6 separate regions of the Homo sapiens genome follow, and all the other regions are linked to region 3. The links come from fine-mapping of genetic effects on plasma protein levels. A gene starts in region 3. Each other region holds a variant in brackets. All regions are shown on one strand. Distances are from middle to middle.

The links. PIP is the chance, under the fine-mapping model, that this variant and not a neighbour inherited with it causes the effect. The UK Biobank Pharma Proteomics Project read protein levels with antibody pairs (Olink). The fine-mapping took linkage between variants from a reference panel, not from the people measured, so its PIPs are less certain.
Region 1: its variant is fine-mapped to the plasma level of the NOTCH2 protein (UK Biobank, PIP 0.93).
Region 2: its variant is fine-mapped to the plasma level of the NOTCH2 protein (UK Biobank, PIP 0.98).
Region 4: its variant is fine-mapped to the plasma level of the NOTCH2 protein (UK Biobank, PIP above 0.99).
Region 5: its variant is fine-mapped to the plasma level of the NOTCH2 protein (UK Biobank, PIP above 0.99).
Region 6: its variant is fine-mapped to the plasma level of the NOTCH2 protein (UK Biobank, PIP above 0.99).

What each region holds. Positions count from the first base shown.
Region 1 is chr1:120,146,811-120,151,885 of GRCh38, forward strand. SEC22B (SEC22 homolog B, vesicle trafficking protein) reads right to left here. Exons shown (of 5, transcript NM_004892.6): 5 at 4,088-5,075. Among named protein-coding and RNA genes, the nearest start is that of SEC22B, 27 kb to the right of the region's middle. The variant G/A (reference allele first, on the strand shown) is at 2,592.
Region 2 is chr1:121,346,570-121,351,644 of GRCh38, forward strand. All of the region lies in intron 4 of SRGAP2C (SLIT-ROBO Rho GTPase activating protein 2C), which reads left to right. It overlaps LOC107985193 (a long non-coding RNA gene), which reads left to right and starts at 2,369. Exons shown (of 2, transcript XR_001738200.3): 1 at 2,369-2,455; 2 at 3,183-3,231. The variant A/G (reference allele first, on the strand shown) is at 2,799.
Region 3 is chr1:120,066,956-120,072,030 of GRCh38, forward strand. NOTCH2 (notch receptor 2) reads right to left here and starts at 2,707. Exons shown (of 34, transcript NM_024408.4): 1 at 2,379-2,707. The coding sequence starts at 2,451. LOC101929178 (a long non-coding RNA gene) reads left to right here and starts at 2,873. Exons shown (of 2, transcript XR_254374.4): 1 at 2,873-3,056.
Region 4 is chr1:120,111,061-120,116,135 of GRCh38, forward strand. No RefSeq gene overlaps it. Among named protein-coding and RNA genes, the nearest start is that of NOTCH2, 44 kb to the left of the region's middle. The variant G/A (reference allele first, on the strand shown) is at 2,599.
Region 5 is chr1:120,127,745-120,132,819 of GRCh38, forward strand. No RefSeq gene overlaps it. Among named protein-coding and RNA genes, the nearest start is that of SEC22B, 46 kb to the right of the region's middle. The variant A/C (reference allele first, on the strand shown) is at 2,337.
Region 6 is chr1:119,892,453-119,897,527 of GRCh38, forward strand. It overlaps ADAM30 (ADAM metallopeptidase domain 30), which reads right to left and starts at 4,063. Exons shown (of 1, transcript NM_021794.4): 1 at 1,081-4,063. The coding sequence starts at 3,884. The coding sequence ends at 1,512. The variant G/A (reference allele first, on the strand shown) is at 2,643.

The DNA of each region.
Region 1 (5,075 bases), 80 kb after region 3:
CCAATTTGAAAGTCAAAGTTCTTTTATTCTAAAGCTCTAAGTGTGCAAATAAACCCACTCTGTATATTTATGCAAATAGCTAAACAAAAGGCAGATAAATAGATATAATCTTCAGTCCATGTATTGGCCTAACTGCTTGTCCCTGCATGCCCAGTCCAACAAACCTCACTGCCTACCTACACAACCAGCAAGTAAAAAATTGGGAGTTTAGCAGGTACAAATTGCCATCAGTTGGTCAAAACTAAGCCGGTAAAACCAGTTTCTTGGGTATGGTAAAATATTTCTTACTTTATATGGCATATTGGTCAAGGTATTTATCACTGAACTGGAGTCACTTTTTCAAAAAATTAGTTAACAGATCTGAAATGCTCATTAAATATTGTCTCCACAACATAAAAGTAATCGTAAGCATAATGGTCAATTGGAAACATTCCCAGTCCAAGATTTGTTGCTATATTTGACTTCTGTGCTTTCTCCCCAAGTCTAATTTATCTCTATGCCTTAATTTCTCCTCCTTCTTTGCCTCCATACCTTTCAATTGTTTCTGCCACCAAAGAATCAATTTCACTTGCTGTATTTTTTTCCCTTCTCCAATGTGTTTACTATATGTTGATATAATTGTACTGGTTCTCTCTTTTGTTGCGACTTTTCAATGTGCCTTTCTTTTCCCATTTCATTACTAGACCTACACCGTTTTGCCCCACTTTTGTTTTCTTCTTTTATTCAAATTGTGTGTACCTATGATTCATGAAACCCAGTTCCAAAAAACTTATGCATACATCTCTGTAATTCAGTGAACTTATACCATGAATATTTGTTGCACACCTCCAATGTGTCAGCCACTGTACCCAATGCCAAGGATTCAAATTGAATAATAATTGATCTCTATCCCAGGCATCTCATAAGGCACATAGCCAAGGAGACAAACAAGTATGCACTGACAGCTAGTTTAAATTTGTAGGTTTTATAATAGAAATATGAACAAGTTATTGTGGGAGAATGAAAACACAGCTTCTCCCAGGTCAGAGAGTAGGGGGGTATGAGAATGTCAGAAAGGCTTTATGAAAGAGACATTTGAGCTGGGTCTTTGAAGGAAGAGCAGAACTTTACCAGGTGTCTTGTTTGTTTTGCTATATGCTTTATTTTACATTTTTAAAAAACTTTTCTTTAAGGTTTTGGTGTACAGATTATTTTGTTACCTGGTAATAAGCACAGTACCCAATAGGTAGTTTTTCTGTCCTCTCCCTCCTCCCACCCTCTACCGTTAAGTAGGCCTTGGTGTCTGTTGTTCCCTTGTGTACATGTGTACTCAATGTTTAGCTCCCGCTTATAAGTGAGAATATGCGGTATTTGGTTTTCTGTTCCTACATAATTTAGCTTGGGATAATTGCCTCCAGCTCCATCCATGTTGCTGCAAAGAACATAATCTTATTTTTTTATGGCTGTGTATATTCCACGGTGTACGTGTACCACATTTTCTTTATCCAGACTACCACTGATGGGCATTTAGGTTGATTCCATGTCTTTGCTATCGTGAATAGTGCTGCGATGAACATATGCGTGCATGTGTCTTTATGGCAGAACAATCTATATTCCTTTAGGTATATATCCAATAATGGGATTGCTGGGTCGAGTGGTAATTGTTTCAGGTTCTTTGAGAAATCACCAAAGTGCTTTGCACAACGGCTGAACTAATTTACATTCCCATTAGCAGTATATAAGTGTTCCATTTTCTCTGCAACCACGCCAGCATCTATTGCTTTTTGACTTTTTAATAGCCATTCTGATTGGTATGAGATGGTATCTCATTGTGGTTTAGATTTGCATTTCTCTAATTATTAGTGATGTGGAACATTTTTTCATATGCTTCTTGGCCACATGTATGTCTTTTTGAAAAATGTCTGTTCGTGTCATTTGCCCACTTTTTAATGAGGTTGTTTTTTGCTTATAAAGTTCCTTATAAATTCTGGATATTAGACTTCTCTAGGATGCATAGTTTGCAAATATTTTCTCTCATTCTGTAGGTTATCTGTTTACCGTGTTCACTGTTTTGTTTGTTTGTTTTTGGCTATGCTAAAGCTCTTTAATTAGATTCCATTTGTCAATTTTTGTTTTAGTTGCAATTGTTTTTGGCATCTTTGTTATGAAATCTTTGCCAGGTCCTATTCCAGAATAGTATTTCCCAGGCTACCTTCCACGGCTTTTATAGTTTTAGGTTTTATATCTAAGTCTTTACTTCATATGAGTTGATTTTTGTATATGGCAAAGGGAAGGGGTCCAGTTTCAATCTTATGCATATGGCTAGCCACTTATTTCAGCACCATTTATTGAATAGGGAGTCCTTTTCTCATTGCTTGTTTTTGTCAACTTTTTTCAAATATCAGATCATAGGTGTGCAGCATTATTTCTGGGCTCTTTTCTGTTCCATTGGTCTATGTGTCTGTTTTTGTACCAGTACCCTGCTGTTTTGGTTACCGAAGCCTTGTATTATAGTTGAAATTGGGTAGTGTAATGCCTTCAGCTTTGTTCATTTTGCTTAAGATTGTTATGGCTATTCAGGCTCTTTTTTAAGTTCCATATGAATTTTAAAA[G/A]TTTTTTTTTCTAATTCTGTGAAGTATGTCACTGGTAGTTTCATAGGAATAGCATTGAATCCATAAACTGCATTGGGAAGTACAGCCATTTTAACAACACTAATTCTTCCTATCCATGAGCATGGAATCTTTTTCCATTTGTTTGTGTCATCTCTGATTTGAGTAGTGTTGTAATTCTTTTTGTAGAGATCTTTCACCTCCCTTGTTATCTATATTTCTAGGTATTTTTGTGTGTGTATGGCTATTGTGAATGAGATTGCATTCTTGATTTTGACCCTCAGATTGAATGCTATTGGTGTATAGAAATGCCACTAATTTTTGTACATTAATTTTGTATCCTGAAACTTTGCTAATTGTTTATCAGATCAAAGAGCTTTTAGGCAAAGACTATGGGGTTTTCTACAGAATCATATTGTCTGCAGAGATAGTTTGACTTCCTCTTTTCCTTGGATGTCTTATATTTCTTTCTCTAACAGGTTATCTCTGACTAGGACTCTCAGTACTATGTTGAATAGGATTGGTGAGAGTGGGCATCTTTGTCTTATTCTGGTTCTCACAGGGAGTATTTCTAGCATTTGGCCCATTCAGTATGATGTTGGCTGTGGGCTTATCATAGATGGCTCTTATTTTGAAGTATGTTCCTCTAATGCCTAGTTTGCTGAGGGTTTTTAACATGAAGGGATGTTGAATTTTATTGAAAGCCCTTTCTGCATCTATTGAGATGACCATGTGGTTTTTGTTTTTAGTTGTTTATGTGATGAATCACATTTATTGATTTGCATATGTTGAACCAAACTTGCATCCCAGGGATAAAGCTTGCTTGATTGTGGTGGATTCGTTTTTGACATGCTGCTGGGCTTGGTTTGCTAGTCCAGCAAATTGAGTCATTGAGGATTTTTGCATCTATGTTCCTCAAAGTTATCCATATTCAGAACTCTATTTTTGTCATGTCAGCCTGGTTAAGAACCACTGTTGAGGAAATAGTGCAGTTGCTTGAAGGTAAGAAGGCACTCTGGCTTTTTGAGTTGCCGGAGTTCTTGTGCTGGTTCTCACCTGTGTGGTCTGATGTTGCTTCAACCTTTGAAGTTGCTGTTTCTTGGATAGGTTTTTCTGCTTTTGTCTTCTTTGATGCCCTTGGTGGTCTGAATATTGCATATAATGGGCTCAGCCAAGTGGCCTCATTTCTGGAAGACTGTAGGGGCCAAGGCTGAGCTCAGCACTCATGAGCTGTGTGTTCTAACTCTGAGGAGGCTGGTATTGGACCTCTGGCTTTGTTTTCTAGCCCCTCAAGGTTAGGAGCCTAGCAGGTGTCTTAAACTGTTTTCTGTTGCGATAATAGAATACCTGAGAGTGGGTAACTTATTAAAAAGAGTTTTATTTAGCACTTGGTTCTGTTGGCTGGGAAATTCAGGATCAGGCAGCTGTATCTGGTGGGTTCTCATGACTGCCTCATGCTGCATCAAAACATCGTAGAGAAACAGAAGGGGACCGAGTTTGTGCAAACAAAAAGCGCAAAATAGAAGAGGCAGCATTGTTTTATAACAACTCACTCTCTTGGGAACTAACCATTCCCAGGAGAACCCAGTCTCAGTGTCAAGAGAAAGATGTTAATCCATCTTAGCAACCTAATTACCTCTTAAAAGTACCATCTCCCAACACTATTACATTGGCAATTGAACTACAACATGAGTTTTGGAGGGGCCAAACAACATGCAAACCATAGCAGCAGGTTTAAAGGTAAAAGGATGGGAGAAAAGTACACAGAAAGATATTCTGGAGAAAAGGCACAGAGTGAGCCAAGGCACAAGGTAAAATGTTTGACTGGTTAGAGACGCTAGATTATTTTGTGTGGCTAAGACAAAACAAAGCTGGTGGGGAGTGGCAGGAGGTAAGTCTAGAATGGCACAATGGGGCCAGACTGCGAATGGCAAACAAGTATGTGATCTTTTATTCTAAAGAAAATGTAGTATGATTAGCACACACACACACAAAAATTATTGGCCGGGCGCAGTGGCCCATGCCTGTAATCCCAGCACTTTGGGAGGCCGAGGAGGGTGGATCATGAGGTCAGGAGTTCAAGACGGTGAAACTCCATCTCTACTAAAAATACAAAAATTAGCCAGGAGCTGTGGCAGGTGCCTGTAATCCCAGCTACTCAGTAGGCTGAGGCAGGAGAATCACTTGAACCCGGGAGGTGGAGGTTGCAGTGAGCTGAGATCGCGCCACTGCACTCTAGCCTCGGCGACAGAGCAAGACTAAAAATAAAAATGAAAAAATTATTATCCATGGTATTATCATGGTAGTACTGACTAAAAGAGGGACATGTGTAACAAAATCAGTAAGGAGGGTACTCCAAGAATCCATGTTAAAGTTAATGAGGGCTTGAACCCAAACATAAAGGATGGAAATGATGTAATAAAATACCTTTTGAAAGTTATATTAAAAAATTTTTGGTTAATAGTCTAGTTAGAGGTGAAAGAAGAA
Region 2 (5,075 bases), 1.3 Mb after region 3:
GGTCAATGGCCTACTTGACCTAGGCGAGAGAAGAAAGAGTTAAGGATAGGGAGTTGAGCTTTTTGCTCCAAAATCTATAGAGGGTACACCCCTCTTATATTCTGGAGTCTTACTGGGTTTCTGAAAATGCCCTTGTGGGTCATGAAACAATAGCCCTTTGAATATTTTTCTGCCGCTGCTGATGTGAGCTGATTAAACTGGCAGGCAGATGATGGAAGGAATAGTTACATGTCCCAGGCGGGAGGTCATGACAGTTGGATCTGTGGTTGACAGAAGAATTTCAACACACATTCAAATCAGCTCCTAAGATAGATTGTCTGAGTTCCCTGGGCCTGCCTCATGCCCTCCTCAAATGCATTTGACTCCTTCTGGCCCATAATACTCACACTTCAAATGTTTGGCTTGGTGTCCACAAATCAACTCAGGGCCGGGGTAGGGGTACTGATGAGCAGTGATGCCCTCTTTGGGAGCTACCACAGCATAGGAAATGAACATTAGACCAGGAATCAGGTAACCTGGTTGGGGACCCAGGGCTCTAGATGGTTTATTTTTTTATTTTCCTTATTGGTTAAATTCCCTACCGCAGTTTTGACATTCTCTTCTGGATACTGACTGTGGTCTAGAGAAACAGCTAAGGAAGGCAAATCTGAATTAAAATCTGGTTCTTGGGAAAGAACTGAAGTTTTCAGATTTTGCAAAATTATGGAGAGTGCAGACTAGGAGAAAAAGGACAGGCATAGTTGTGACAAGGAGCTATTTTTTCTAGTTCTGCATTCTAGAAACAGTACTGATGAGTCCAAAAATATAGAGATAAAATTTTGTCTTTTTTCTTGCTTTAAAAAAAAATGCTTCTAAATGTCTACATACTTGCCTAAGAAAATATTTCTCAACTCCTCCAGAATATTTAGGGTTAACTAAAAATTATAAAAACATACCACAGAGCTAGTCCACTCTTTATGCCTAGGGTTTACCCAAAAGGTCTGCATGCTCTGGCTTGGAGACCCTGACCCCATCTCAACTTGCTGGTTTTAAGTCTACATATTTGGCTGCAAAGCCCTAATGCCAGGAGGAATGCAGAACTGACGAGTCCACCCCATCTACAAGCTAGAAGGACATCTTGATTAAATTAGTGTCAAGGGCTGTGGAGAGAAAGGCACAGTGACACAAAGGGTGTTTTGAGGAGCCCTGTAGCGCCTGTGGAGAATGAATGTTCTCGTTAAATATGGCCGTGACCTGCAGCTCCACACATGCCAGAGACACAGCTCAATTGTCCCCAGGATTTGGGGGGTGGGGACGATCATGGGGAGAGGACAGCCTGGCATGGAAAGGCAGGAATGCAGGAAGGCCTGTTGTTGTTTTCTTTTTGCGATAACTACAGCAAGCAATTCTTTGATCATGGTCCTTGTGTTTGGAAGGGATCAAGAAGCGATTTCCTTTCCCCTGGGTGTTTGAACCTTTGCTCTGCTCCTTGCTTCTCTGGGTATTAAGGGGACTCCTGAAAGCCCCCATTGTCTTCAGCCTCTTTCCACCCCCTTCCTTGGGGCTCCCCAAGAAGACTGTTGCCTGAACTCTGTAGGGCAAGAATGAGAAGCAGTGCCCCCAAGACAGTGCCTACCCTTGTCATTTACCCACCATCCTCATCTCATTTATCCTTAAGTCCCAAGACCAAAGCAAAGAACACATGGGCTGTTGAAGGCTTCCACAGGACTGCCCTGGTCAGTGGGAAAGCAGTAATGCTTTCTAGCTGGGTAACCCCTTGGCTGAGTTCCATCTGCACTGTGGCCAGGGTGCGTGGTGAGACATGCTTTTGCCATTTGCCCTTTGAACTGCCAACAATCCCAATGTAGCAAATGGATTTAAAGCTGATTGAGTTTTAGATTTCTTTCCTTTAACCAGAATATTCTAGCAGCTTATTTTTATAGTTCTGCTTGTATGATTCTCTTTTTAACAGATGGAATCACAACCTTTTCTGCAGTATATATCTGATGAATTTAAAAACTGATACATCAAGAATATTCTTTTGTATATGTCTTTCTTGCTGTGAAAATTTATGGCCTTTCTTCCCCCTGTCTTTGCTCTGTAATTATTAGGTGCTTACTATATGCAAGGCATTGTATAAGATTAGGAGAATACAGATAAGACAAAATAGCATTGAAGGAGTTTATGAGTTCAATTCCAACTTCACCAATTAATAGTTGTTCTCATGGACAAATTTTTTGACCTCTCTAAGCTTTAGCGTCTGTAAGTACTAAGTGCTTTTTGTGCAGAGAGATGTAGAGAGGTGAAATTTGAGCTGGGTTTTTAGTGAATGAAAATGATTTCAGTAATTAAAGATGAAAAAGTACGGAGTTTGTGAGCATGGAGGGGGAGCTGGAGTCAAAGGATATTCCATATGGAAGAACAGGCTTCAGGATGAAGGAGAGCACCGGAATGTGTGAGGACTCTTCAGAGGGTGGTGAGTAAAAATAGTTTGGCTAAATCAGAGTGTTAATGAGGAGAGCAGCTTGAAACAAAGCCGAAAAGAGCCTCGAATGCCAAACTTGGAGTTTGAACTTCATTCTGAGAGCACTAGGGAACGATGGAAGACCTACTCATAGGGAAATGATAAAATATTGCTGCTATTTCCAAAAGACTGGGCCTCTAATTCCAGGACAGGGTAATAAGAGCCTGAGATGTGGTAGCAGTGACAGGAGGAATGAAAAGAAGGAGACAGATGCCAGACATATCATGAAGGAGAAATGAACAGCGTATGGCCACTTATTGGAAAGAGAATTCGAAGTCAGTGATTACTTCTTTCA[A/G]TTTTTTTATGCTAGTGCCACTTAGGAAAAGCCAGTGTGCTGTTACAGAATTTGAGGTGGCTGGTGAAGCTGACATTTTCACATATGTCTCAGGAACTAGATGCCCAAATCTTTCTCAGACCCCAGATGGCCCCATATAGAGCTTTTATACGTGCCAATTTTTAGAATTTCTTGTAGAGTTCCTCCATTTGGTGGTCACCAGAGGATCTCTGAGATTAGTATCTGGATTCTTAATCATTCAGCTAATTTCAGAGATGTCCTTTATTTGAGGTAGATTTAACCTCCTTTTTCTGTTTGATGGAGTGTGGTTTTTGAAAAGTCCCTAAGGAAGTAATGTGAAACCATACTTGAAACCTCAGGCTTGCTTCTCTCTTGTTTTACCAGAATGCTTTGGTTACCACGTCCTGGGAAATGAACAACTTAAAACGTAAGTGTGGCAAGCCTTCACTATCACCAGTATCTGTTCATTGTATCAAACAAAGCATATTTCCATTCTTATTAGGTTTCCAGAATTGCACTGGGCCTGGTGAGGGCTACAAATAAACATAAGATAATCTGTTTTCAAAATTTAAACTTAGAGTTGTGCTTCTAGAAATGGAAGCTTTTCTAGAAGAAAATTCAGACCAATCCTTTTGCTTCATGGGAGCTGCTTTCCTTGAAGAGGCTTCTGCCATTTTAGAAAATATTACTGAGTGTCAAAAAGCTGAGCAGAGTGTTTAATAGACTTGTAGGGCTAGCAGGACAAATATGGAAATTTAAGGCCCAGAGGCCCAGGATGGGTAGCCTTGGTAAAATTCCCCAGGCTTTGAGACACCAAAGGGATACAATTAAGAAGGAAAGATAAGCCAGAAATAGACTAAGGCAGTTTCATAGAGACTGAAGCCTGGATTCAAATTATCTTAACCTCTAATTGGATTAAGGTGATTTAGGATAGCCAGTGGCTAGAAACAAATTTAAATCCTCTCTAGAGGAAGATACTGTGGAAGATACTATCATCCTAGACCTAATATATCTCTCATCATTTTTCATTATTATGTTTGGCACTCAGTTATAAATAATTAGGCCTATGAGGAAATAAGAACTGTGACCAAAAGCTAAGAGAAACAGCTAGACACACAGGAGATCCTAGTAATGGTGTTAACAGATGCAAACTTTAAATTAACTATGTTTAATATGTTTATGAGATTAAATTATAAAAACAAACCTGGAAATAATAAAAAAAAATAACTCAAAATGGATCAAAGGCATAAATGCAAAAGCCAAAACTATAAAACTCTTAGAAGAAAATATAGGTGTAAGTCTTCATGATCTTGGATTAGGCAATGATTTCTTACATATGACACCAAAGCACAAGCAACAAAAGAAAAAATAAATAAATTGAACTTCATCAAAGTCAGAAACCTCTGTGTTTGAGAGGACACTGTCAAGAAAATGAAAAGACAGCTATAGAATGAGAAAAGGTATTTTCAAATCATATATCTCATCAAGGTCTAATTTTCAGAATATATAAAGAATTCTTACAACTCAGCAACAAAAAGATGACCAGTCCAGTTTAAAAATGGGCAAAAGACTTGAATAGGCATTTCTCCACAGAAGATACACAAATGGCCAACAAGCACATTTTTGACACTGTTATTTATTGGGCTACTGCAAATCAAAACCACAATGAAACACCACTTCACACCCACTAGGATAGCTATAATTTTAAAAAGGAAGAAAGAAAAGGAAAGAAGAGTTTTGGAGAGGGTATGGAGGAATCAGAACCCTCATACATTGCTGGTGAGATTGTGAAATGGTGCAGATGCTATGGAAAACTGAAAATTCCTCCAAAACTTAAGCATAGAATTAACCTGTGACCCATCAATTCCACATCTAGGTGTATACCCAAGAGAATTGAAAACATATGCTCACACAAGAACTTATACACAAATGTTCATAACAGCATTATTCAAAATAACCAGGCTGGGCACGGTGGCTCACGCCTGTAATCCTAGCACTTTGGGAGGCTGAGGTGGGCAGATCACGAGGTCCGGAGATCGAGACCATCCTGGCTAACATGGTGAAACCCTGCCTCTACTAAAAATACAAAAAAATTGGCCAGGCGTGATGGCAGGCACCTGTGGTCCCAGCTACTGGGGAAGCTGAGGCAGGAGAATGGCGTGAACCCAGGAGGCGGAGCTTGCAGTGAGCAGAGATCGCGCCACTGCACTCCAGCCTGGGCGACAGAGCGAGACTCCATCTCAAAATAAATAAATAAATAAATAAATAAATAAATAA
Region 3 (5,075 bases):
CAAAATCAGGGAGTCACTTCCCATTGCAAAGCAAAAGAAAACAAGGAGCAAGAGGATGGTCCTGGATAGCTGTTTAGACAATCAGACATACTGCTAACATCTCCTTGCCTTAGAAACTCCGTGATGTTTAAATTAACAATTGGCCACAAGCCAAACACAGGAACACTCAAAAGTTTAGAAGGGTGTGCTGCAACTGGTACCTTAGCAAAACACAATAATAAATTAAGAGGATTCAAGAAGCCTTCACTGTAGACTCTAAGAAGATTTAAGATTTGTACCGAGAAACGGCTTCTAAATCTCTTCTACTGCATTAGTTTAGCATCTAAAGAACACCTGTCTAAAAATCAAAATATCTAAATCCTATCCTTTGAGTCAACTTGACTAACACTCAACTTGACTACCTAAAAGCTAGCTAATAATCGCAGCACCTCAGCAGAGCAGAGGTGGAGGGCATAGTTTTATGCACTGAGATCCTATAATAAAAGAAGCCCTATGTGTCAGAGTAATCCCATTTCTGATATCATATTATTTAATACTTAATTTTTCAAATCACTTTACAATTATATTTATTATTCCCTACAATTCTCTAAAGCAGGTTATTCCTTTAGTCCTGCTTCATAGGTGAGGAGACTACATATCATGAAGATTAAGTTATTTACCAAAACAAGTTAATGATAGACCAAGGATTATTACCCTCAGACTGTCTCATTGATCATACTCCTCTCTATCCTAAAGCTACACTTAAAGCTTTCACTCAAAGAAAAAGGAAAAGCAAAAACACCATCATATATGCTCTTTATTAAATGCTTCAGAAACAACGGCTCTGCTTCATCACTACAAAGCCTCCTGGTCCACTTCTGAAATTCTTAGTGACCTAGACGTGTACGAAATTTGAACTTTCCAAGAAGTATCTAGTTGGTGCTGAACAACCCAGTACTATTTTCGGGTGATAAATAACCTTGTTCTCTTTTTAAACATCTGCGATTGACATGTCGACTGACTGTTAACAATGAACAAAGACCATATTTTTCTGAAGCTCATCATCTTCCTAACCTTTTCTTTGAAAACAGATGTAGTTCATGTACTAGTTTTTTGGTGAAGGTAAAAATCTTTATTCAGATTAGGCTCAGAAAAAGAAGGGGCTGCTTTCCGTTCAACAAATATGCACAAGACAGCATCCCACTGGGAGCATCAATCTCAGAAGCAGTAAAACACAGCCTCGGCCCTGAAAGGACTTTCTGAACACCTTTGGAGTGTCATCCGTTTAATATACATTATTTTAATTAATCCTATTAGCTGGATAATTTCTTTCCCATTTTATTGGTGAGTTCATATAGCAGAGCTGGATTTGAATCCAGGATTACAGAGCAGGGCTCCAAAGCCCAAGTTATTTCCACTAAAGGGTCTGAAGAAATGTAGAATCTAAAAGTGTGGGTGGGATGGGGAAGATATGATTTGATTCCCTTTCCTTGGTCCAACCGTGTTAGAAACATCCAACCATAAAGAAGCTTTCTAAGGAAGCCCTTTGAATTAACGTATCCACTTTTTCTCACCCGCCCGTGCCCCACCCCCAGCCATGCCAAAGGAGCAGCAAATGCTGCTGCCAGGTTGGAGGAATTGGTGATCGTCACACCACATTCCTGGGTCTGGACACAGCCTGAAACAGCAGCAGAGCTCCGCGCCTCGGAAAGAATAACAGCAGTTGAGATTTTTAAATCATGTGCCTCAGCATGCAGCCACACCAGTTGCCCTACTTCTCCTGCCTCCACCTTTCAAAGACGCGAGCAGCACACACGGCTCCCCCGGACTTTCGGTGGGGTTGGAGTGTCAAAACTCAGGCGCGCCGCAAAACCCCGTCCCCATCCAAACCAAGCCCACACACCCGGCCCATGTGCCGCCCCCTGGCAAAGGCGAGGCTGGCTGCGACGGTGCAGGCCGTTTGGCTTGGCGGCCCTGCCCCCGCTCTCCACGCCAGAATCTGGCATTCCTTCGCTCAGCCCCTCCGAGGCCCGCCGTCGGCTCTCGCTCGACCCCAAGAAACGCGGAACCTGAAGGGCAAAACTGCCCACCTCCCTGCACCCTGGCACTACGAAAAAGGAGTTTCTGAGACTTGCTGCCGGCCTCCCTCCTGCCGAGGAGGCGTGTAAGGGGTCCCGGGCCGCGGGGAGCAGAGGCGGCGGGGAACCCCGGCGGTTGGCGGGGCACCACGGGAGGGGCCCCCGGCGATGTCCAAACTCTTGGGAACCCAGCGAGTGGCCTCGCTCCGCGCCGGCGGCCGAGCCTGGCCTTCCCACACAGAGAAGGACCGAGGGGGAGAAGGGTCGCCCCAGGTGGCAGCCCCGGGCGCCGCGGACAGCGCCCCTCAGCCCGATACTCACCATGCGCGGGGGCCGCGCAGCACAGCCAGAGCGCCAGCAGCGCCCACAGCAGAGCGGGGCGCAGGGCGGGCATCTTCTCGGTCGCCTCCTCCTCCGCCGCCGCCGCCGCCGCCTGGGCAGATCCACATGGGGAGGGGGTCCCGATAGAGGAGCCCCACTCTCTCCTCCCCTCCTCCTGCTTCAAAGGCTCAGGCCCTGGCGCTACGCTCCGAAGCCCAGGCGCAAATGCCTCGACTCCCCGCGCCCCGAGTCCGCCGCTCCTCGGCCGCCGCCTCAGCCGCCGCCCGAAGTTTGGCTGAAACTTTCTCGGGTGTGCAACGAAGCAGCCTCGTGTGTCCTTCCGCCTCAGCCGCCTCCTCCCACCGCAAGCCCCGCCCCACTGTCGCCGCGGCCTCGGCCCCGCCGCCTTGGGCACCCAGGGGTTTCCCGCAGGAAGAAGCGCCGGCCCGAGCTCCGCGCGGAGGGATCTACTACGAGTCACTGGCCCCGTCCGCATCCTTCTCCAGCGGCCCCGGGGGCCGCCGCGCCTTAACTCGATCAGGGCTGCAGCGGCTCGCTGGCTTGACCAGTGCAGAAGGGGCGTGGGGGTGAGGGGGGTGGGGTAGGACTCTGAACTTCAAGCACTGGAGTTTGCCGGGATCGTGAACTTGCAGGGAGAGGCGGTCCTCATCCAGTGAGGTCTGTATCGCCACCTACACCCACACATCCACACACTGCTTTGCTAGCTAGAGGAATGCTCTGGAGTAGGACCAGTGCTGTCAAAGAAGGAAAGTGGGCCAAGGCGCCAAAGTCCATTAAAAAGGAATAGAGCCATCACGGAGTGGTGCTGCCCCATTCATTCATTCATTTGTTCATCCGTGTAGCGAATATTTCTTAAGTGCCTTACTTTGCGTAGCTGTGTGCTTGGCAGTGGGATGATACCAAAGATGCACAAGCAACTTTGAGTACCAAGACTTTGCCGCTGTGGGCTGGGGGATTCAGGGAAGGCTTTCCCAGAGGAGCTGGGATGAAAGCAGGATCTTGAAAGGTCAGTAAAATTTGTATAAGACAAGGAGACCAGCTAAGCTAAGGATATTCGTTGTAACACTGTAATAGCAAAACCTTGAAAACAACATAAATGCCCACCCTTAGAGGAATGGATGAATAATGTATGGTATATTTATAAAATGAAATGCAACACAGTAATTGAAAAGACTATAGCTATTTATGTCAATAGGGATAAATCTTAAAAACTAAATGATAGTGAAAAAACTAATCACAGAGGGAGACAAAGTATACCATTTATGTATATTTTTTTCAAGACAATACTACACATTATCTGTGGATGCATATATATAGATATAGATATTAAGAGACTATAACCAGAATAGTAGTTACTTCCAGGGCAGGAGAGTAGGGGGTGTGATCAAACCTGGGTACAAGTGGGCTTCTAAGAAAAGAGCTAAAAGTAAGAACAGCAACAATAGTTGTATGGACATATCATTCCAGGAAAGAGCCCTCGTGAAAGCAAAGGTACAGTCAAAAGAGTAAGTAAATGAGTTCTGTCTCTGTTAGCAGTGAGAGGAGTCAAGGACGGAAAGGGGGTTGGGACCAAATTATGCAGCCTTGAATGGCAAGCTGAAAGGGTGGGGAGGCAGCTACCTCTTAGGTCACATAAAACTATTGAAAGTTTTTGAACAGAGTTGAGATTGATGGAAAGGAAGATTGCTCTGATAATTCTGTAGAAAATTGATTGTTGGGGGAGCAAGAGGTGAACTGGAGCCCCAGGACCAGTCAAGAGTTGGTGAACAGTCCAGGCACAAATTTAAGAAGACCTGAACTAATAAGGTAGATTTCAGAAGGAATGAATCCGAGACAATGTTAAAGAAACAGAAAAAAAAAATGGAGGTGTGACTAATTGGATGTGGGAGTTTACAATCCTGTTGGGATGGGAAATCCTACCCATAGAACCTCTCCCTGACTCCTATAGGATAAAATTCAAACTTCTAAACATGGTACATACAAGGCCTTTTCGTCATTGGGCCCCATCTCCTGTCCTCCCTGCCCCTGTTGTGAACTTCACACAATAACAGTATTGACTAACTTGAGATTCCCCCAAACATATCTTGCTGTTTCTGTCCCTGTATCTTTTGTTCCTTTGGCTTGGAATGACTCCTGTAGTCCCCTTCCCTCCTCCTCTTAATGAACTTCTAATCATAATTCATCCTTCAGTCCAAAGAAGGCTTTGCCGACACCGCAATAAATTCCTCCCCCTAACAGACAGTCCCTCCACTGTCTTCCACTGCCGCTTCTTTATCTTAACACCGATACTTATTTTTCACACAGGACTCTTTGTATTTCTGTGTTCTCAACTAAGTTTTGAGGTCCTCATGGGCAAAGACCACAGCCTATTAATCCCCAGTGTCTATCACATAATAGATGTTGAACTAGAATGTGAAACAACACTAAGCAAGTACAAGTCAGTATGGGCATAGACCTATGAAGTTCCAAAACTGCATGTTAACAAGCACTTTAGGTAAGCAAGTACCATTAGTGAAAGTAGTCACATTGAAATACTGGAAACCCTTTTCAAAAATAATGTAGTCAAAATATTTTTGGAATTTGTCTTGTGCAAGTATGTTCAGAGAAAGATAACATTATTTTTCAGTTGTTTACCCACAGTGTTACCAGTTCGATCTTCCTCTTTACTCACTAAAG
Region 4 (5,075 bases), 44 kb after region 3:
TTGGGTGAAGTGTTGGGAAGAGAGGTGAAGACAGAGAATAAGACAGGGGAGAAGGAACACATTCTATGTGAAGGTGCTGAGGGAAGATAGAACATTTGAGGAACCAAAAATGAATTGTACAGCTGCCTGTGGTACATAGCCTGGGCCTCACCCTCTCCCCTGAGCACTTGACAATGCACATAAGGTCCCTAAACACTTCTGCCTACTCACCCACCATAAAACCTGTCATGTTTGCTCTCCCTTTAAGGCTCTGTTTTTTTGCCTTCCATAATTGCGATCTCAACTGATAGTTTCCTAAGACAGATTTGGGGTCTGGAAACAGATTCTTAGCTGAATTCTACTACTTCACTGTGCAAACTTGAGGAAGTGAGGTATATCATCAGTAATATGGGCTAATAACTGTGCTAGTAGTAACATTTCATGATTGTTTACACTGCATCAGCTTCCAGTGCTAAGCACTTTTGTCTTTTATTGTATGATTCTCACAAATCCTCATAAGGTAGGTAATGCTTTTATCCCTTTCTCCCTTCTCAAAGGATTCTTAGGAAGCCTAGGTGTGACACTAATTATAGATGCACTTTGTAACCATTAAGGGTTAATGCAAAAAATGAAATATTATTGTGATGTTCAATAATAGTACCATGATGTTCAACAAGTACATATTTAATGAATAACTGCATTTGTTGAATGCCATGACAGTTGTGGGCTATAATTAAATGAGTCTCAAAATATTTTGTGTCTGTCTCCTGAACAAACCAAATAAAAAGCAATAGAAGGAATGAAAAACGTTGTCATCACCAATTTGCTAATTGTATGCCATGCCGGACCACAGAAGAGAGAATTCCACAGATGTGACCCTGAGCCTCCAAAGTTTACAGTCTGATGACCACCACTACCTGGAATGCAGATACAGATAACAGAGTGAAAGCTCAGTATCAGTTGATACAACACTGGGTTGTATCAAGCTCATTTCCTACCAAGGGTAAGGATCTTTCAGGAGACCGAATGAGCAGGAAAAAATTCATGAACTTCTTTTAAAATTCAAGGTGGGGGCTGAAGCCAGAAGGTTCTAAGTCTCTTAGTATTCTCCTTAGTACATGTCTCTTCACTTTCTATCACCTTATCACAGCGTTTTTTTCACCCAACCCCAATTCTGGGGAATTATTTATACATGATATATGCACTGTCATAATAATGACATATTCTTAAATTGTCAATTTCTGAAACCACGTATGTGTATCACAAACTAATATGAATGTGTGTGTGTGTGTGCGTGCACGCGCATATTTATGTGTGTGTGTATGAGTGGCTTCCTACACTTACACTCCCCTACTTGAAGAGAAGTGGTACCGGCTCCCCCTGAAATCAGCCAATGTGGGAGGAGTACTGACACCAAAAACAAAGGAAATGAAATAGGATAACTGTGGTTTGAGGCTCACAGGTCAGATGAGAGGCAATGAATGAGAAAGTCAATGAGCTGAAAATGACTTAAGTACAGGCACCTCCTAGGAATTATACCCCTAATAAATGATTGTATTGAACATTTGTTTAAACTGATGTAAAGTACTTTGAAGGTTAACATCCTTTCCCTCCCTCACAATATTAAGTAGTGTAGCTTGGAGGTTGAAAGCAGATTCTGGGTTCAAATCCAGGTTCTGTCAGATTCTACCACTTACCAGCTAAATGACGTTGGACAAGTCACAATATCTCTAAGCCCTTATTTCTTTACTTGTAATGTGGGAGTACAATCTGCCCCCATGAAGCTCTTAAAAGGATACAGAAAAATAAAATGTGACAAACGTCTTGCATTCAAATGACTACTTGATGGTATTTTATAGGTGACAAAATAGATGCCCAGAGAAGTTAATCTCCTTTCTTGGGTCCCCCCGAGTGTTAACAGCAGTGCAGGGAAGGAGTCAAGCATCCTGTCTCTGGCCCATGGCTTTTTTATCCATGTGGAGCACCAGTCCCACACAGAAATCATGTTTAGGCTACAAGTGATTTTTCATATATATCTTCTTTAATTTGCATTTGTCTGCCAAATCCACACATTAGCAAGCTCAAAACTCCAATGGAAAGGCGTATATAGGATCTTCTGGAAAATTAGATCTGGAATGACCCTAGCAGACCCAAAGAACTATGTGTGAGAAAAAACACAATACCCTGTTACACCCCCTTCAATTGTGGGCAGGTAGATTATTTACTTTGTGGGTTGATGTAACACAATTTTTAATCCCATGTTGGCTACGCTCTGCCACTTCCCCCCACCGTTAGTGGGTGTGTGCTCAGGCAGTGTAAACTCAGGAAGGTAATGCAAAACCAGGAAAGTAAATCTGCTTCTTATACCTCTCACCCCACATCAGCCTCCTCCTCTCTTTTTACTTCATTCTCTTCAGCTTTAAAAAAACAGAGGTAAATGTATTTTCAGTTGTCTTTGGCACAGCCCTGTTTTGGAAATCATAGACAGCCAGCTGGACCAGGAGTCAGGAAGCCAGGGGCTCTCATCTGGATCTGACATTGGTTAACTGTGGGCCTTCAGGAAAGTTAGATCAGTCCTCCAGGCTTTTGTTCCTTTTCTGTACAATGAAAAGAAGACTA[G/A]AGTATTTATGAAGTGCTTACTGTGCACCATGTGACATCAATTGTATTACTTTATTTAATCCATAAGAGAAAGAACTCTACTAGCTAGGAATATAGATCTGTAGTATTCAAATTTAAAAATGCTCAAGTTGCCCAAGGCCACAGAGGTGGCAAAGAGGAAGCTGAGTTGGACTTTGAACCTAGGACCATCAGATTCCAAATTTTATGCTTGAATGAGTTATCCAGTACAATCTATAATTTTCTTTTCTGTTCTAATATTATGCTGTTATGTGAGCACCACTCATCAATATTTAGTTGGCTTAGTTTATTACAGTGAGTCATTCTTCCATGCCTTGGGGTCTTACTCTATATAGGCAGAAGCCCTGACTAAATTTACTACATCCCTTATTTAGTCAGCTAATACATTAGTTGTACACTCTGATATTGTAAGTAGTGGTTTTATTGCCATTAGTGAAAATTAGTGAGCCACCAGGTGTGGTGGCTCACATCTGTAATCCCAGAACTATGTGAGGCCGAGGCAGGAGGATCACTTGAGCCAAGAGTTCGAGACCATCCTGGGCAACATGGTAAGACCCCATCTCTACAAAAAAATACAGAAATTAGCTGGATGTGGTGGTGCATGCTTGTAGTCCCAGCTACTTGGGAGGCTGAGGTGGGAGCATCACTTGAGCCCAGCAGACTGAGGTTGCAGTGAGCCAAGATCCATGCCACTGCACTCTGGCCTGAGTGACAGTGCCAGACCCTGCCTTAAAATACATACATACATACATATATACATAAAGTAATGCTTGCCTTCATCTGATATGCTTCTTCCAATAAGAAAAAACTTTTCTTGGAAACTCTTCCCCTATCCTTCTTTGGAAACTTTACATAATTGACTTTACCTTCTATTATTTAGATTGTTTATTGACAAACCAAAATTATTTGATGTGTATGTCTAACCCATATAGAATCAGGGCATAATATGAAGGGTACTTGGTTCCTGCAAGGGTGTTTGCACAGGAATACTGGACATGAGACTACCAGCTATTCAGCATTACAGTGGAGATTTGTCCTCTTATTGTCAGGTGCCTCTCAAGTTGGACTCACATAAGAACTAAATATGTCTCAGCTATAACTTCACTACATAATGGTTGGAAGAGGAGTGCACTGGAGTGCACCCCACTCTGTGGAGGAGAGACAGGAATACTTAATATTTCTTCTGTAGTCAACCAGGTATATCATTGAGCCTAATTCTTCACATTGCAGTTATATTCTCTAAAAGTAAATATGATGCTTATTTTAGTTGCTATTGCATCCTTAGGCTAGCCCAGTGCCTAGCACATAGTAGGTGCTCAATAAATATGTGTTAAGGCCGGGCGCAGTGGCTCACTCCTATAGTCCCAGCACTTTCACACAAGGTCAGGAGATTGAGACCATCCTGGCTAACACGGTGAAACGCCATCTCTACTAAAAATACAAAAAATTAGCTAGGCATGGTGGCGGGTGCCTGTAGTCCCAGCTACTGGGGAGGCTGAGGCAGGAGAATGGCGTGAACCCAGGGGAGGCAAAGCTTACAGTGAGCCGAGATCGTGCCACTGCACTCCAGCCTGGGCGACAGAGCGAGACTCCGTCTCAAATAAAGAAATAAATAAATATGTGTTAAATAAATGAACAGGACAAGACAAACCAATAGGGAAGATAATTAGGAGCACCTGGACCTGGGTTAAATGTTGGTTAGCAATTTCAATCTGCCTAAATCTTGTGATATGAGCTCCTTAAGAGCAATGACTCTTTTACTCATCTTTGTATTCCCTAGGATTTAGCCTTCATAATAGGGGCTCAAAAATTTCCATGGGATTAAATCATCTTATAGTAAAATTATTTTAGAAGATAACATAGTGGAGGGATGCGAGAAATTCAAGTGATTTGAGAGTGATAATGATAAGGACGATAACAATCACATAATCATACAAGGTAACAGTGGAAGACAAGAGTGCTCTTTGAAAGGAGTGATGCTGTTGTTGGTGAAACTGGATCAGAAGTTGTCCAGGTAGGGGTTGTGATGTCCTCTTTCTGCTGTTTCCGTGAGTGCCAAAAGTAGAGTCAATTTATATTGATACTTTAGAGAAAGTGATTCCCTAACATTCCTCTCAGTTTTGCCCTCATCATCCCCTAATAGCCCTAAGGCCAAAATACCATAGTTATCACTGATCAGTTGTTGATTTTCCCCTCTGTTCTCATACAGAGTCACTTCCTTGGTACATGAGACCTAAGATGAATTCCAACATCTTCCCTTCCTGGACCCAGTACTGCATCCCTCTTTCTCTCCAATGACAGCATCTCTCCAAAGGGTGGAAGGCATTTTCACTGCACCCAGGACTCCTTTCACTGCCCCATCCTCTTAAAGACAGCCATGCTCAGTGATCCCAAGCTGATTTTCTGTTATATACTGTGATGCCATAACTGATTACTTCTTCTATTAAAGAAAATAAAGA
Region 5 (5,075 bases), 61 kb after region 3:
AAAATAAGGGATCAACAAAGGGAAGGGGAGTTTTTTTCCCTTAAAAACATATGTGTGTGTATATATATATAATCTCCAAGTGCATGATTTTTAAAAAAATAATAGGTACATTAGTAAATGTTTTCGGTCGCAAGCAACAGAAACAATTTATAGTTAATCTAAGCAGTAAATGAATTTATTAAAAAATATTAGGTAGTTCACAAGCTCTCCAGGAGGACTAGAAACCCAGGTTTAGAGGCTACATAGCCAGAAGCAACACCTAAAATTGTACTGCAGAACAATATCATGAAGTCATCAATGCCCCCACTGCATGGAAACCACTGCTCGGTGAATGCCCCAAGCCTGGATGCTGGTCCCTGCTGCTAGAACCACCAGAACCACCACCACTGTAGCATCTAAAAAATGAGTGTTGTTATTACAACTAATGCCACTCCCTGCTGCAGAACAGATTCAGCAGTCTTTGCTATTTGAGGTCACTAGCTCCTGAGTCAAAAAGCAATGCAGATCCTTATGCCTATGCATACCTGTAAGGGAAGCTGGAAAAGAAGTATCTGACATTTTCAGCTTCTAAAGTAAAAGGTTGTCCTCTGTATCCCATCAAGGCCTATAAAGTGATGAATGCTTCAAATATAGAGCATTTAGATAACAGAGGTGGAGAGAGAGAGAGAGAGGAAAATAAGGAAGGAAGAAGGAGTTTCACATCAGTTTTCACTTTGCTTTGGGGGAAAGTATCCTGGATGCCATATGACATACTCACTTTCCTGTGTCTTTTGCATGTACTGTTGTTAAGAATCACAGGACTTCAGAGTAGAAAGTTCCCGATAGAGGATTTAGTTCAAAAGCATTGTTTTCTAGTTGAGAAAAACAAACTCAAGTAAAGTTTGGGAAAACTCAAGTTGCCCAAAATTACTCATAAGAGTTTCTGATTATGTGATTAGGTTCTCCCAGTCCAGGGCCCAATCCTCCATAGAATGTTCGGGTATTATTAGTACTTCAGCCAAGGCTCTAATGCAGTATCAAGATGCAGATTTGCTTCTGGTAGGGCTTCTTGAAGAAACTGGTGCTACTTATTATAAATATTATTAAACATTTGTATAGGACTTTAATGTTTATTTTTTAAAATTTTTATTTGTAAATAGTAAAATCATTTATTTTTAAAAAACAACAAAAATATAGGAGGATTTAAAGTAAATGGTAAAATTCATACCTTCATCTTGCTTTCCTACTCCCTAGGAATAATCAGTGTTGAAAGTATGCTGAGTATCTTTCAGTTCTTTTTCTATGTGTATGCACATATATTTGTAGGTATTTATAGACATACGCATACCACATATATAACCTTTCATATCTTGCTTTCCCACTCTACATGCATCATGGACATAACTGATACTTGAAGTGGATTCATGCCAGTAAGTTATTGCTAGGTTGGGAAGCACCGCATGGAGACATGGTGCCTGAGGAGAGGATGTCACAAACCATGAAAGGCTTGGTGGTAAGGTGATATTTTTGGTCCAGTGAGCTTCATGGTGTCACTTGAAGTATAAATTGCCTCAGGAAGAAAACATGGGCTGCTTCAAAACATGAAAGTAACCTCCAAAATCATCTAGCTCAACCTCATTTGTAGGTGAAGAACTATTTTTCCTGGGAGTGGGGGTGATTATGGACCTTGCCCAAGATCACCCAACCAGGACAGTGACAGAGTTGGGATTTCTTTCTTTCTCCAAGACCCTGGCTCATTGCATTGTGTTGCATTGCTTTCTGCAAGTTTCAGAGGAGAGAGAGGGCAGTGGTTAGTTTGAAAACACACATATGCTCAGATTACATTTGATTTCTCAGACTGTAGTGCTGGGGCTCCCTGCCTGACTGTGTCCATGAGTTCTTCCATGAAGTTTTACATTTAGCTTTTCTTTTGCCCACTATATGCCTTATTGACTACCATTAACCATCTCCTTGGGGACTATGAATCTTACTTTTCAGTCTTTTTATGGCAATTTGCACTCTTTACTAACACAGCTTTATTATTTGTTCAGGTCTTGGGAGAATATTGAGTAAGACATTATATCAGATGGATGACAAAAGGAGGGGAAAAGCAAGAAAGACCACCAAGTTTACATAGATACCAAATTTATTTAATCAGGGAGGAGTCATTTAGTGCCAATGAGGGAGGGGTAGAATACACATTAGAAAAAGACACATCTTCTGCCTGTAGGAGCTTACTTTCTAGAACAGTTACCTCTAGTCTCTTTTCTTCATACCACTCCATCAAAAAAAAAAGAAAGAAAGAAAAGAAAACCAGCATACATGCCTAATAATTGCATGTTTGCTATAAATTCCAT[A/C]CACTCTACTGTGACATTTTAATATTAGTAAAGCCTAATTTTCTTAATATTTTAGATTAAAAAATAAATAGAAGCAAGTATTCACATATGTTTTTCTCATACCTCTATGTACCATTTTGAGCACTTCACTTTGGAGTCCAGTTTCAACAGGAGAATCAGATGCACACCCAAAATACTAGAAAGCTTGGGAGTGTGAAGAGGGCTCTAATGTCAGGGTAAGCAAAATATTCTTAGGGCATCAAGGAAGCATTGCCAGAGGAAAGGAAAGCTGAGGATATTCAAGGACTTCTGACCTACTCCGTGGGCACAGCGTCTCTGGGCTTGGACAAGGGATTAGTGCCAGGCTTGATTTCCTTGGCTGGAATCTGTACATGAAGGCTGCACATGAAGAGCCTACCTCACCCCAGAAGCATCCATTTCCTGGCACCTCAAGCATATATGGGCTTAATAAATAACATGTCATTCCATGATGATAGGGACAGACATATTTGGCCCATAGCTTAGAGCCATCCCCAATTGTCTACACTCAATGGTGGGGCAGCAAGTACTGTGGATATGGAGCTGGGAGGCTGAGCTAAATCCTAGCTATCTTACTAACCAATTGTATGACTCTAGCCCTTAAACTCTCTGAGCTTTAATTTTCTCATCTGTAAAATGGGAATGATAAATGCCTTCCAGACCTATTTACAATTTCTAACATTTGTTGAGTTTTTCAATGTGCATTACATGTATCATCTCATGAAATCCTCATGACAAAATAATGAGGTGGAGCTATTATTGTTCCCCTTTTGCAAATGTGGAAACTAAGTTTTAGAGTAGGTAATCTGCCTACAAGTTTACACAGCTAGAATGTGCAGAGATGGGATTCTGAGGCTTGCTCAACTCTGAAGCAAATGTCCTACCCACTCTACTTGGCTGCTGACCATGAACACACTTCATGAACTCTGAAGTACGAACAAGGTACACAGAGTGTAAGATTTAGTCCTTGTCCTTAAGTCTAAATTCAAAATATGTTTATCTATAAAGCGTGTTTTTCTGTTTTTGTTTTTTTGAGATTGAGTCTCGCTCTGTCAGCCAGGCTGGAGTGCAGTGGCATGATCTCAGCTCACTGCAACATCCGCCTGCCGGGTTCAAGCAATTCTCTGCCTCAGCCTCCTGAGTAGCTGGGATTACAGGCGCCCGCCACCACACCCAGCTAATTTTTTTTTTGTTTTTATTTTTAGTAGAGATGGGGTTTCACCATATTGGCAAGGCTGGTCTTGAACTCCTGACATCATCATCCACTTACCTCAACCTCCCAAAGTGCTGGGATTACAGGTGTGAGCCACCATGCCCAGCCTATCTATAAAGTGTAAAAGTCCGACAAAGTAGGATTTGGTTAGAATGAAAAGGTGGAGAAAGAACTTCAATGTTAGTTTCCTTATCTTTAGTCCCTTACAACGGTATATGATTACTGGAAAGAGCACTTGGTTAGCAAGAAGAAAACCAGTTCTGTCCCATACTTGCTCTCAACTTTAGGCACTTCATTTAAGCTGTTTACTCATCTATTAGGGGTCCTAATGAATGAGCTCTAGAGGGTCTTTTTGCCTGACAATCCTCAAACTCCATTCTCAAAACTTCCTGCAATCGGGAGTCTCCCTCCCCTCCATGGAGAGGGCGGGACAGAGGCATGTAGACAGGGAGGCGATCCTCAGGTCAGCTAGGGCTTACTCAAACAAGGTCCTGTGGGGGCAACAGGGAGAGTGGATGGGGACTCAAGCCAGAGCCCTGGTGGGATGGGCCGGTAATTATAAGGAAACACTGCAGAGAAAGTTTCTGTTGTGGTTGTTCCCTTTGTTTACTTTAGGCAGTTCTGTCATTTTTTAACTGACCCTTCCCAGATGAGATAGTCAGTTTTCAGCTGGGTAAAGTCAGGGCCTTGCAACTGATGGGGTATTTGAATCCTCTGTGGCTCAGTTGCTGGAGGGAGGCCAGGGCAGCTGAAACTCCCCCGCCCTTTCAGGGAAGTGAAGCTGGGGCTACAAACTTGCTGACAGTGGCTGGTGGCCTGTAAACCCAAACATCCTCCTCTCCTCCGTCTCGGTGTAGCAATGTGAAAAAAACAAAGCCACGAGCTTTCCAGAGCAGGGGAAGGCTCTAGCCAGATTCCCTTCCAGCTACTCCCTCCTGCACTTCGGCCCACAGCCACATGGTACAAGGTTATAGTTACAGTTGAAAACTGCTGACGTCTACTTTTTGGTTGTTGTACAAATAATAATTAATAAAACACACACAAAAAAACACACTTTTCTTCATGGCTAAATATTCACATAGTTGATTCAAACCTAAATATGCATACTTGCTTTTCTTTTCCTGTTTTCTTAAGTTTGAATAATAGTCATGTAGCTGTTTAAGAATCAGACAGAAGGAAAACTCATCCGCTTAGTACTTTTCTTAAATTGTCCAGTTTCTTTTGGCCTCTGAATACCAGAGTCTTTTATGTGTAAGATTAGAAACATCTGGCCAGCATATCTGAGTAAGGCTGAGCTAAAGCGGGATGAAACTAGGTAGAATGGCCTGCCTTTCTGAATTATAGAATTTTAAGCATTGATGGGACTCAAACTTACTAAATTCTACCTCTTCATTTTGCAGATGAAAAGACAGTCCCAAGAGGTTAGGATTTGCTTAATGTCACACAGCCTGCATCAGAGGTGAACCCAGAACCCAGGTCTCCATACTCCTAGTCTGGCACTGTTTTTA
Region 6 (5,075 bases), 170 kb before region 3:
TTGCAGTGCCTCAGTTTCTCTTTTCTAAAATGAGAAAATAATGACACCTATCTCATGGAGCTGTTGTCAGCAGTATGCATGTTAATAATACACATGTAGCTCTTAGAAGGCTGCTGGCACATATGCTGAGAAAAAACAGTCTGGGGACCAACCTTCCCTGTGAGACTGCCGCAAGTTCATCTTTCATTAGAAGTGTGACTAAGAAACAGGAGGCCGAGCGTGGTGGCTCACGCCTGTAATCCCAGCACTTTGGGAGGCCAAGGCAGGTGGATCATGAGGTTGGGAGATCGAGACCATCCTGGCTAACACGGTGAAACCCCGTCTATACTAAAAATACAAAAACTTAGCTGCGCGTGGTGGCGGGCACCTGTAGTCCCAGCTACTCAGGAGGCTGAGGCAGGAGAATGACGTGAACCCTGGAGGCAGAGTTTGTAGTGAGCTGAGATCGCACCACGGCACTCCAGCCTGGGCGAGAGAGCAAGACTCAGTCTCAAAAAAAAAAAAAAAAAAAAAAAAAAAAGAAACAGGAGATTGGGATGGGGCACTGCAGGCCTGCGGTGTTGCCTGAGGAGGGAGAGGAGCACTGAGGTAAGATGAGAGAAAAGCAGGAAGACCCAGCCTAGAGCAAGACCAAAAAACTTAGCCTGACACAAATCTGAGAGGGACAATCCCCCCTTGGATATAAGAAGTGGATACTGACTCCTGCCAAGGCACCCCTCAGTCCTCTCCTCCCACCAAAATCACTGTGCAAACGGGAAGGAAGATGTGGAGGCAGAGACACGGGGGTCCTTGAAAGGCGTTCCTCACTCCTCCTCTGTGCTACTTAGGAGAGTGGCAAACATAGGGCCAGGTGTCATTCAGCACACACGCACTCACAAAAGCTCTGCCTCTGCAAGCAGACACTGCAAACACAAAATTTTCTTAACAGCCTTGCCCCAGGACACTGCCAGGGCCTGGCATCATCTTGTCATCATTGCACTGTGGTGCAATGCAAGAGTTAGGACAGCTCAGCGTCATTAACCCACCTGAGATCACCCCAAATACTGAAAATGCTTATAGAATCATTTTCTATTCATAAAATGTGTTGTCGGCATTTATTGATCAGCATGGGTGCAGGTGCGGATGTTCACATGGATCAAGTTGAGGGAGGCAGAGGGAGAGGCAGACAATTGCTTTGTTCCCTGGGATTCTGAGAAACAAGACTATACCTTGAATAGCATGGTAATTCTAGGAAACTCACTACTTTCAGAGCTTTAGTGTATGGAAAAGCCATTAGAGCATGATTCTCAGAATACCCACAACTTGGTCACAAACTGAGGGGCAAGTGAACACTCGAGAAGTAGAATGCACTGGTTTGTTTCCAAAACAAGAATGCTGTTTATTTGCTGATCAAAACTTGTGGGAAAAATTAAAGTAAAAAAATATTGGGAGAAGAATGGAAAGCCTTTGGATAAATGATTAGCTGGTTAAATAAATGAGCCTGTGTTACTGAATGAGTATGGATTGCCCGGTTACTTTTTTTGTTTCTTGACACTCTTTGCTTTGGGTCGTTTACTTTCAATGTTTGCTTTAGATTCTTCCTGTCCAGTTTTTGCTTTAGATTCTTCCTGTCCAGTTTTTGCTTCAGATTCTTCCTGTCCAGTTTTTGTTTTAGATTCTTCCTGTACAGTTTTTGTTTTAGATTCTTCCTGTTCAGTTTTTGCTTTGGATAGTGGCATTTTTTCCTGTTTGGGTTTTAAGTGGTTTCCTATCACTTGCCGGAAAAACACAAAAACCACTGAAAGGATTAATAAAATAAGGCGAAACATTATGATGGACACAACCCAAATTGACGAGGGAATCGCCCCTCTGAGCAGTCCTGGAGGCCCACTGTCAATGCTTCCTCCATACCCCACTTCCTCACAGAATGGAGGTGCCCACCCATACATGCAGTGGCAGTTTTTTCTGTTGTTGCAAACACCCCGGGTATTGCATTTCTCAGGCAAACAGTCAAACTGCAGGACTGAGCTATTGACGCAATTTTTTTTAAAACATACCCGGCCTTCTCCACAGGAGGTGCCATCATTTATCATACCTAGGTCAGGTATTCCCATGGGTTTCATGGATAGATGATAGCCTGTGCCCCAGCACATGAGATTTTCTGCCTGTAAATGAGTAGAAATTATAGTCGTATGCTCTGGCAAATCAGGGATGGTTTCAACATTTATACACTGTAGCCTGCCACATATTGAATTTGCACTTTCACACTTTTTAAAATTTCGAATTCCTGTAATCTCACAGTTACCAAATTGATCACCTATTAAGTTAACTGCATCATAGCACTCACTAGGAGCCTCCATGGCATCAGGTCCAAAAATGCTTTGGCACTGCATATATCTGGATCTGCACCCCTTCCTGAAACAACGGCCTTCATACTTGCAAGGGGTTCCATCCTGCTTATAAACGTCATTTGGGCAGGAACTTGAATTCCCGTCGCAGTACTCTGCAAGGTCACATTCATTTCCTTCCTGCCTACACACGTATCCAGATGGACGAAACCGACAATCATGACAGCAAAGTCCAATGCTACAGTTGGCACCTGGTTGCAACTTACAATTTGATTGGCAACACCGATCTTTCTGACACTCCTCTGTGGAACCACA[G/A]TCACATTCCTCATTGTCCTCCACAATTTTGTTTCCACATCTCTTAAGCACATAACCTAGTCCTGGGATATTATTTAGACATGTTGCTCCCGAAGAGATATGTTTAAAAAAAGAGATATAACTGCAATTGCTAAACCCAGTGCGTCCTGAGCCCATGATGCAATTAAGCCTACCCCTACATTGGCAGTATTGTTCATCATGTGACATTCCTACAGCATGACCCAGCTCATGAGCAGACCAGGTAGCAGGGGCAAGGATATTTGTATCTAGTAAAGTACTCACTGATCCAGCATATTCTAGAGAACACACTTTTCCAAACGACCATGCAAGAGCATCATTATATTTTCTTTGAAGATATAAATGTGCCCAATCTGATGACAGGCGAGCATTTAATACACTTTTTTTATATATTACAAATCTGCCTAAAACTTCAGCTAACTCTGGATATCCAACGCGTATTTTGTTAAAATCTGTCCATACTTCAAGAGCCTTTAAGTGTATCCTCATACGAACATCTTGAAAGTAGGTGTCCATAATCCCAGTCAAAAGAATGGCATCATGTATGACTTGAGAAAGATTGTTGTTCACAAACCTATACCTACTTTGATCAAAGAGTAGGATCAATTCCAAGTACTTTGGGTGTTTATAGGATCCAGGAAAGTCCCTTAGCCTCGCCTTATTCTCATAAGGGGCCATCTGCCATTCTATTTCATCATCACTTAAGCCACAAACCTGATTCCCAAACTGCTCTTTCTTCAGGAGATAGACGACATGTTCAAAACTGGGAGAGGCCTTGAGGGGCTCAATTTGGTAATGTTTGGCATCAATGTTAAATACACCTCGGAGACCCCCCATGCATGTGCTTATAGTAGCTTTAGAGTCCAGAGACTCTTTCACGGAGCCCATGTAGTTGCAGTCCTTTGGTATGTAAGGATGATCCTCCAGCAGTTCCCCATGTTCTGTGAAGGAGAAAACGCGCAGATGTCGGGGCAACAGAAGTCTCTTGGGCCACAAATGGAGGACGTGCTTCTTGCCTTTTAACTGCAGTAGGTAGGACACGGGACTGACCACACCCTGCACCTCTCCCCGGAAGCTCAGCTTCTCAGGAATGGTGACTTCATACGAGTCAAACTCCCCTTCAGGGTGAAAAATTACATCTTCGCCAAGAGACTTAAGGAGCATTGTCGGAACTAGTAGAAGGAGCAAACGGCATTGGGAGAGGAAGATCTGCACTGACCTCATGGTCTGTTCCCTACTCAGCCTCAGTTTGCTATTCAGTCCCTGCAACTCTGGCCTCGCGAGTCAGATTTCTGGGGGCCGCCGCTAGAGGCGCCTGAGCTCAAAACCCGGCTCCCCTGGCAGGGTTTCCGGGGGAGCCCGTAGCCTCCCAGGGCTCGGTCTAGCTGGCGTCCGCAATGCGCGCGTGACCTGTCCAACGCATCCAGTTCGTTTTCCGGGCCGTACCGTTGGGCGCAGGTGGAAGAAAGGAGGGAAACGTGGGCGAGAATAAAAGAGAAAAGAGGGGCTGTTGGCACGTGGGTTGGAGAGAGGGTAGAGAACACCATCGGAAATGGAGAAGGAATAGAGAAATAGGAAGAACAAAGGAGAACGTGTTAAAGGCTCACTGTATCTTTGCCTTTACTCTGTGTCTTTACACCTTAGGACACAGGTTGGAATCCGATGTTTTATGGGCCACTGTCCTAACTTCATTGTTGGACATTTCCCAGTTTTCCACTAGGGTTGCTTGTGGCAAAAGAAAGGAGCATCAGAACCAGCAAGAGTGGAAACAGCCTGAAAGTATCAGCGTAGACTCCACACCCCCAGCCCCACTCTGGGCAGTTCCTCTGTCTTCGGCTGCGGCTTCTTTTTAGAGAAGGCCCTGAACCTTAGTTGTGGGCCCAGGCAACAGAAAGGTCCTGAGCTCATTTTGCCTGGGAGTGCTTTCTGCTGTTTGTCTTTGGGGTGCCAGGGGTCAGTGTAATTTTTGTGTGTCCATGTGCAATGGTGGGAAGAACCTAGAAAAAGTGCCTGTTATAAGAGCAAACCCAAGTGCTTTCTGAGAAAGGTAGATAGCTGGTTATGTTCCTAGTCGAGCGATGAGGCTGACTCCACAAAGGAAGAAGCCTCTGGCTCAGAAAATGGAAGGGTTTATCGTCCGTAAAAGGGCAAATCGGAAGGTCATGAGGTGATTCTGAGGGATTCTGATAAGAGAGGAATATTTTCAGTTTTGTTCCTGGGAGATTCCATCTGGCTGAATTACAAGGAAAGGTTAAAAAGGAACAGGCTTGAGTCAGGGAGACTAGTTAAAAGCTCTTGTACCAAGCAATGTTGTCTGTTGGCAGAAAGCATGGCCTTAGGGCTGATAATAAGCAGTACTTATGGAAGACTGGCTCGTTTCATGCTACACACCCCGCTATGCTCTGCATAAATCAG